Regions from separate parts of the Homo sapiens genome. Here region 2 is linked to region 1. Evidence: fine-mapped expression QTL. A gene starts in region 1. The other region holds a variant in brackets. All regions are shown on one strand. Distances are between the middles of the regions. Region 1 holds the start of CLEC11A (C-type lectin domain containing 11A). Region 2 has its middle 19 kb from the start of GPR32.

What was found.
Region 2: its variant is fine-mapped to the expression of CLEC11A in whole blood (TOPMed, PIP 0.97).

What each region holds. Positions count from the first base shown.
Region 1 is chr19:50,721,696-50,726,076 of GRCh38, reverse strand. It overlaps CLEC11A (C-type lectin domain containing 11A), which reads right to left and starts at 2,713. Exons shown (of 4, transcript NM_002975.3): 1 at 2,405-2,713; 2 at 1,986-2,172; 3 at 1,476-1,667; 4 at 369-1,055. The coding sequence starts at 2,551. The coding sequence ends at 610. RefSeq lists silencers at 1,145-1,204, 1,245-1,364.
Region 2 is chr19:50,749,456-50,753,836 of GRCh38, reverse strand. No RefSeq gene overlaps it. Among named protein-coding and RNA genes, the nearest start is that of GPR32, 19 kb to the left of the region's middle. The variant T/C (reference allele first, on the strand shown) is at 2,544.

The DNA of each region.
Region 1 (4,381 bases):
TCCTGCCGGACTTGTCAGAGCCTTTAGCCCCTTCACGTTTCCCAAATCTCTTTGACCAGGACCAAGACCAAGGCCTGGGACAACTGGCAGGCCCTGGGTCCCAAAGGCCGAGAGAGAGGGCACGATGGAGGTGAAGGTGTCTACAGCGTTTGTACGCGTGTACTCCGGCCATCTGTGCACAGAACAGATGACCGTGTGTACATATGCACCTGTGTTTCTCCATCACTCCATCTGGGGCTCAAATGACATCTGTAAAAAGCAGAACAGGCATCCAAAGGCCAGGACACGCGCCCAAAGACCAGGGTCTGGCCCTTCCCGGCTTCCCCTGCAGGAGATAAAGTCCAAGACTGCCTTCACTGCCCCTCAAGTCAGATTCCACAAGGATTTATTGGCACCGGACCTAGCCTGGTGCCCGCCCCTTCAAGGAAAGACACTAACAAGGAGGAGTGCCGGCACCGCAAGAGCCCTCCCAGAAGCGCCCAGACTGGGGGTCGGGGAGGACGCTGCCATTCGTGGCCAGGAAGGGAAGGGAGATTCCGGAGGAGGGTGGGCACGGCGCAGGGAAAGGCCGGGTGGTGGGATGGGCAGGGAGGCGGGGTACCGGCCCCGCTAGAAGGGGAACTCGCAGACGTAGTAGAGACGCCGCTGGCAGTCGTGGTCCCACCAGGAGCCGTCGTCAGAGGCCTGCGCCACGCAGTTCTCGAGCGTGCCACCGTTGGGCTGGTCCGGGCTGAGCGGATGCGGCGAGGCGCTGGGCTGGGCGCCGAGCTCGGGGCGGGGTGAGCGATGCCAGGCGAAGAAGGACACGCGCTGGCCGTTTTCGAAGAGGTAGAGGCCCTCGGCGCGCCGATCGTGCACGCCCAGCCACACGGGCCAGTTGTAGGGAGCGAGCGCCGCGCGCAGGTACCGAGTGAGCGCCTCCATCTGCTGGCGGTCTGCCGGCTGCGCCAGGCTCCCGCCCCGCGCCGTGCACCGCGCCTGCGCCGCCGCCTGAGCTTCGAAGTCGCGCGAGAGCAGGAAGCACTTGTGGCCCAGGCGCAGCCCCTTCAGGCAGCCTGTGGGCGGGGCCGGGTAGAGAAGGAGGCGGGGTCATGCATTCAGAGTCTGGAAGGGGGCGAGGACAAAACATCCGGGGGTGGAGGGAGGCGGGGCCAGGAACTCATGGGGAGGGCTGGGAGGAGGCGTGGTCAGAACCGCGGGAGCCAGGAGGTGGAGAGTCTGGTCCGCCAGGGGCGGGGCCAGGCGGTGGGAGCTGGACTGTAGGGGGCGTGGTGCTGCCCCAGTCGGGTCCGCGCGGGTCTGGAGTGCCCACCCGCTCCCTGCATTCAGCCTCCCAGCTCTCTAACCCCGTCCGCTAGCACACAGCAGCTCTCCCGAACTCTCCCGCCCCGGACACCTAGGGTCACCTTCTCAACCAGTCCCATTCCTGGCCCAGATAGTCTCATTTTTTTCCACCCCGCGCGCCGCGGACTCACCCTCCAAGCGGCCGTGCTCGCGCTCGGCGCGACCCTGCGCCTCCTGCAGGGCTTGCACGGCATCGCGGGTGTCGCCTGCCGCGTTCCGCAGCTGCCGCAGCCCCTGGGTCAGCTCGACCACGCGGGTGTCCAACGCGTGCAGACGGACGTGCAGCTGGTGCAGGCCTGCGTCCAGGCCGGCCAGGCGGCCCACTGCGGACAGACAGGGATCATGCTGGAGGGGGAGCCTGGAGATGCAGCGGGGGGCCTGAGGACCTGGAGAACTGGGATCTAGGGCTCCTGAGGGCGGGGTGGCGGTGGGGGGGGCACCCCGGACTCCTGGAAGGTAGGGTCGAGTGGCCCAGGCCTTTAGGAGGCATGGCCGTGGACCTGGGGCTCCTAGGGGTGTGGGGGCTCTGGGCTGGGCAATGGACAACTGAAAGGCCACTTGGCAGTGAACCGACCCTTCATTTTTGCGAAAGTGACCGCGGCGGCCTAGGAGTTTGGGGGTGAGGGCTTCTGGTTACTCACGGATGTAAGTGACGATGTCCTCAGGGGTGGGAGAGGGGCTGGGGCCGGAGGATGGGGTTGGCGTTGCTTCCTCCTCCTCTTCCTCCCCCTGGTCCTCCTCCATCTCCCAGTCCTCTTTTCCCTCAACAGTTCCGGCAGGATTCTCATCCCCCCTCCCAGCAGGCAGTCCTAGGGCTTCCTGCAGATGCTGGGGCAGGGGAGGGGTGGTGAGCCCCAGCCTGCCACCAAGATGCCCCATTCACCCCTTTCCAACTCATAACTCATTCTCTGCTGCCTGAGTCCTGTCTCTGAGCCCATCACCCTCCCACTCCTCTGAGACTATCCCAATCGCTCCTCATTGTCCATTTCCCTAACCTTGCAATACCCCCTCCCAGACCCACAGTTCACCACCCATAGCTCCCTGACACTCCAGAGCTCACCTTCAGCATCAGGGCCTCCCTCTCCCGCTCCTCCTCCTGGGCACCTCCCCAGCCTCCCTCCCACTCCCTCTCTGCTCCCCGAGCCCCATGGCCAAAGCCCAAGAGCTGGGGGACCACCAAAGCCCCCAAAAGCCAGGCTGCCTGCATTAAGCTGGACTCTTGGCACCCAAAGTTCCAGATGTCTGGATGTCTGGGGTGGGAGGGGTGGCCTCTGGGAACTGCCGAGTGCCCCTGCCCTGTGTGCAGGTCACTAGCCCCCAGGTTCCCGATTCTCCCAGCTTCTCTCTTCCTGTTCCTCTCCTCGTCTCTGTCCGGTCCGTTGGTCTCCTCTGCTTCTCTGTGTGTGTCTCTCCCCGCCCCTCTTGGCTCCCCGGAGGCCCTGCCTCTGTGGCCGGAAACCTCCAACGTTCCAAAGCCTAGATCCCGCCTTGGGTCTCCTCGCACACCCTCCTCTTTCCACTTTCCAGAGCTCGCTTCCGCCCTGCTCTTTCCTTCTGCTGTAGCCCAAAGATCAGATAATCAGGAAGAGGATGGAGCTGGCTCTCCAAGGAATCTTGGAAAACACAGGCCCCGGCCTCAGCCCAGGAACCCGCTCAGAACCATCTCGGCAGTGGTGGGATGCTGGGACCGAGCACTGCTCCCTTCTTCCCTGCCTGGCCATTCCTAAGGAGGGGCAGACCTCAGGGTCTCGCTGAGGTTGTTATTACCCTGTGGCCACCATCGCCTGCACACTCAATGGAGGAGACTCCAGGGCCCCTCCTGCCCCCTAGATTGCCCATCCTACCCTCCAAGCCCTTGTCTGGAGATCCAAGTGAGTGTGTGTGGGGGCAGGGTGACACATGTGAAGAGCACGCGTGTGACTGTGTGCATGACCCTGGAAGACGGGGCTCGGGGATTAATTGGCCACTTTACTAGAAGCCTCCTGCAGGCCAGGCTGTGGGCTGGGTGATGCTGGGGACTCCAGCTGCTTGCAGACCAGCAGCCAGATAGCTCCGGGGATGAGGGGGCTGGAGATGGGAGAGGGTGAGGAGTCTGGCGGAGCAGTCAGGGAAGGTTTCTCCAGGAGGTGAAATCGACAGACGCTAGGTTGTGTGCTCAAGGAGCTCTGAGCATTCAGCAAGCCACCTCATTTCAGCCTGGACCACTGCAGTCTCGCCCTCCCCCTCCTTCCTCCTGAGCCCCTCCAATCCCGGCTGCTTGCCGCAGCCAAAGCAATCCTTCCAAACCATAAATCAGATCACATCACTCCCCACTCCCCTGCTCCCCCACCTTCCCATCATAAGCAGGAGGGAAGCCAAGCCCGGGCCTCAGTCCTCAGCGCAGCCTACCATGCTGGGGGCTGGGAAGGAAGAACCCTTTGCACCTCTGCAGCCTCATCACCCCCATTCCCTTCACCCACCCCCAGCCTCCACCTTCCCTGGCCTCTTGGCTCATCCCCAAATACTAAGCTGATTACAACCTCAGAGCATTTGCACTAGCCCTTTCCTCCTTCTAGAAGCCTCTTTCCCCAGCTCCTTCTCATCATCGAGGTCTCAGCTCCAGGAGGTCTTCCCCAACCACCTTATCTATTCCGCAAGTTACTTTATTAAAATGCCCCATTTCATCTTTTTGGTATAATCAAGACTGGCATGATCTTGTTTGTTTATGTCTGTTCCCTGCCAATGAAAGCAGGGATTTTTATGCACTGATGCATCTCCTAGCACAAGGCCTACCTAGCACATAGTAGGTGTTCAATCAACCTGTTGAGTGGGCGAGAGGGTAGCCGTTCCTGGTGGGGTCAAAGGCCTGGAAGCTTCACCTCTTTGGTTTGCTGGCACCCAAGTTCCCAGGGTGGTGGTGGCAGGGTAGGTAGAGGTGGTGAGGGCAGTGGGAGAGAGGCTTGGAGGCAAGGAAGAACAATGCCATGCCATGCCCCTCTATGTCAGGCCCATGAGTCATGCAGGGCTTTTCCCGCCCAGGCCTGGCTGGTGGTGCCAA
Region 2 (4,381 bases), 28 kb before region 1:
GGATCGCATGAGGTCAGGAGTTTGAGACCAGCCTGGCCAACATGGTGAGACCCCCATCTCTACTAAAGATACAAAAATTAGCTGGGTGTGGTGGTGCATGCCTGTAATCTCAGCTACTTGGGAGGCTGAGGCAGGAGAATCGCTTGAACCCGGGAGGCGGAGTTTGGAGAGAACTGTGATCATGCCACTGCACTCCAGCCTGGGTGATAGAGCAAGACTCTGTTGTCCCCCCGTTCCCCCCGAGCCCCCACAAAAAAAGAGCTGGTTACAGGCAGCAGCAATTAGACCGCGTTTGTTGGATCATTTGGTGATCACCCATCTGCATTATTCATCTCTGAGTTCCCTAGAGGCGAGGCTGGTGTGTGGCTTGCTCCTGGCCCCTGGAACACAGCAGGCACTTGGTAAATAATCGATGAGTGATCCATTAAGGAGGGCAATCTCTCCTTTGTCATCTGAGGATGGATTCATTCATTTAGTGTAAAATTATGCATTGAGCCCAAATTGTACACCAGACACTATCCTAAGCGCTGGGGGTACCGCAGTGATGAAGACAGTCAAATACCTCTGACCAGGCACAGTTCACGCATATGGCATGAGAACATTCCTCACCCAGAGGAGGTGGCCCAGAACTTTCAGCCCCTTTTTGCCACCTCTTTTTTTTTTTTTCTTTTGAGATGGAGTCTCACTCTATTGCCTAGGCCGGAGTGCAATGGCACGATCTCAGCTCACTGCAACCTCTGTCTCCTGGGTTCAAGCAATTCTCCTGCCTCAGCCTCCTAAGTAGCTGGGATTACAGGCAGCTGCCACCACACCCGGCTGGTTTTTGTATTTTTAGTAGAGATGGGGATTCACTATGTTGGCCAGGGTGGTCTCCAACTCTTGACCTCAGGTGATCCACCTGCCTCGGCCTCCCTAAGTGCTAGGATTACAGGGGTGAGCCACTGTGCCCAGCCCACTACCTCCTTTTTGTATACCCTGGAGAGTGCCCTTCAACTCTCCTAATCCCCAAGCTCCTACCTCCTGGCTCCCTGAGACACACCCCGCAACGAATCCCGGTCCCGTCACCTTGTGCTGTGTCTGAGGGTGAGGCAAGGTGAGGGGGCTCTTTCTGTCTCTGTCGTCAGTCCCAGGTGGCCGCCAGCCTTGAGCCCACGTTAAAGGTAGGGGGCTGATGGCAGGAAGCTAGCTGTGAGTTTTGGAGCAGATAAACGTCCAGGAAAGAACCTTGAGCAAGAGCTTCAGAGATCGCTATCAGTCCGGGAAATGTCACCAGATGTGGGCCCTAATAATAGGCCCCAGGGGCTGCAGGCTTGGGGCATAAGGAGGAGGCGGGTGCCAGGGAGGTCTTTCCGCAAGGCCATTCCAATTCTCCTCTGCCCTCTTTGTGCTAATGAAATTTGTTAAGAGATACAAAACACTTAAAACTTCTTGCGGCCGGGCTCGGTGGCTCACGCCTGTGATCCCAGCACTTTGGGAGGCCAAGGCGGGTGGATTACCTGAGACAAGGAGTTCAAGACCAGCCTGGCCAACATGGCGAAACCCTGTCTCTACTAAAAATACAAAAATTAGCCAGACATCAGGGTGGGTGCCTGTAATCCCAGCTACTTCGGAGGCTGAGGCAGGCGAATTGCTTGAACCTCAGAGGTGGAGGTTGCAGCCGGTCGAGATTGAGCTACTGCACTCCAGCCTGGGCAACAGAGTGAGATTCATCAAAAACAAAAACAGAACAAAACAAAAAAAACTTCTTGGCACATAGTAGGTGCTCAAGCATTGTTAGGTCTCGTTATTAATACTGCTATAGTCCTGCTTCGATTAACATCAGGAATAAATTCTGAGAGATGTATCCTTAGGTGATTTCATCATTGTATAGATATCATAGAGTGTGCTTACACAAACCTAGGTGGGAGAGTCTGCTACACACCTGTGCCAGATGATCTAGCACAGGGGTCTAGGCCATAGCCCAAATGCGACCATCTATTTATTTTTTGAGACGGAGTCCCACTCTGTCACCCACACTGATTTGCAATGGCACAATCTCAACTCACTGCAACCTCCGCCTCCCAGGTTCAAGCGATTCTTCTGCCACAGCCTCCCAAGTAGCTGGGATTACAGGCATGCACCACCACACCTGGATAATTTTTGTATTTTTAGTAGAGATGGGTTTTCACCATGTTGGCCAGGCTGGTCTCAAAACGCCTGACCTCCAGTGATCCGTCCACCTCGGCCTCCCAAAGTGCTGTAATTCCAGCTACTGGGAAGGCTAAGGCAAAAGAATCACTTCAACCCAGGAGGCAGAGATTGCAGTGAGCCGAGATCACACCATTACACTCCTGCCTGGGTGACAGAGCAAGACTCCATCTCAGAAAAAGAAAAAATGTAAGACACAAACACACACACATCAGCCTAGGCCTATGCAGGGTCAGGATCATCAACGTCACTGTCTTCCATCTCCACGTCTTATCCCACTGGAAGATCTTCAGGGGCAATAACACCCTTGGAGCTGTCGTCTCCTAGGATAACAGTGCTTTTTTCTGGACACCTTC[T/C]GAAGGAGCTGCCTGAGGCTGTTTTGACAGTTAATTTTTCCCTTTCCTTTTTTTTTTTTTTGAGGCAAGGTCCCACTCTGTTACCCAGGCGGGAATGCAGTGGCACAGTCTCAGCTCACTGCAGCTTATGCCTCTCAGGCTCAAACGATCCTCCCACCTCAGCCTCCTGAGTAGCGGGAACTAAGGCACACACCACCACACTGGGCTAATTTTTACATTTTTTTCTTTTTTGCAGAGACTAAGTCTCACTATATTGCCCAGGCTGGTCTCGAACTCTTAGACTCAAGCAGTTAACTTTTCTTTATAAGTAAAAGGAGTACACTCTAAAATAACAATAAAAACTATAGTACGGTGAATAAAGGCCGGCCGTGGTGGCTCATACCTGTTTCCCAGCACTTTGGGAGGCCAAAGTGGGTGGATCACTTGAGGTCAGGAGTTCGAGACCAGCCTGGCCAACATAGTGAAACCCCATCTCTACTAAAAATACAAAAAGTATTCGGGCATGGTGGTGCATGCCTATAATCCCAGCTACTCAGGAGGCTGAGGCAGGAGAATCACTTGAACTGGGGAGGCAGAGGTTGCAGTGAGCCAGCCTGGGTGACAGAACGAGACTCCATCTCAAAAAACAAACAAAGAAACCTATATATAGTAAATATATACACCAGTAACATAGTTGTTTATTGACTTTTTTTTCTTTTTTGTAGAGACAGGGTCTCACTATGTTGCATGGGCTGGTCTCGAACTTCTGGCCTCGAGCGATTGCCCTACTTCAGCCTCCCAAAGTGCTGGGATTACAGGTGCGAGCCACCATGTCCTGCCCGTTGCCATTGACAGGTATGATGTACTGTACACAATTATATGTGCTATGCTTTTCTATGACTGGCAGTCAAGTAGGTCTGTGTACACCAGCATCGGCACAAACATTAGAGTAACGCCTTGAGCTACTCCATTAGGACAGCGACAACATCACCGGGCAATTGCAGTCTTAGCTCCATTATAATCGGTGGGGCCACCGTCGGACGTGCAGTCTGTCATTGACAGAAACCTCGTTATGCTGCACATGGCTTTATTCCCTCGGGAGAATGCTGCGGCCTCAGCAGTAACATTTCACTGACTCTAAGGCACATCATGTCAACAGGTGTCACCAGAAAGACAAGATGTTGTAACCAAGCGAGTTAGAGAGAAATGCCACACTTTGAGACAAATTATGGAGTCCTTTATTAGCCAGCGACTGAGAGACAGCTAGCGCTTAGAATTCTCTCCATCTCGAAGAAGGGGCTAGATTCTCTTTTATACTATGGTCTAAATAGAGGAGGGGGAGTTTAACTGAAGTAGTTTTACAGAAGCAGAACAGGCAAAAAGTTAAAAAATTAATTGGTTATGGAAGCAGTTACAAAAAATAAACAGTTCCAGGTGCAGGGGCTTAAACTATCACTAAGAGATAAATGCAGGGGCTTTTAGGTACCTTCCACCGAGCAGGAGCTGCTAATACAGGCTGCCTCAATATCTTATCAGCAGGTGCATTCCTGGATGTGCTTGGTGTCAGCTTGCACTAGTTATTCCCTTAAGGGGGATACGGGGGGCCCCAAGTGAAGAAACCAAAATGGAGTCTGTCCAGCTCTCTCTGCTAGGAGACAGTCACTCCGGTTAAAACAGGGTAAGGTATCACAAAGACACAGCCTAAAAAATGCAATCCAATGCTTATTTTATTTTATTTTATTTTTTGAGTTGGAGTCTCGCTCTCTCGCCCAGGCTGGAGCACAATGGTGCGATCTTGGCTCACTGCAACCTCCACCTCCCAGATTTAAGCGATTCTCCTGCCTCAGCCTCCCGAGTAC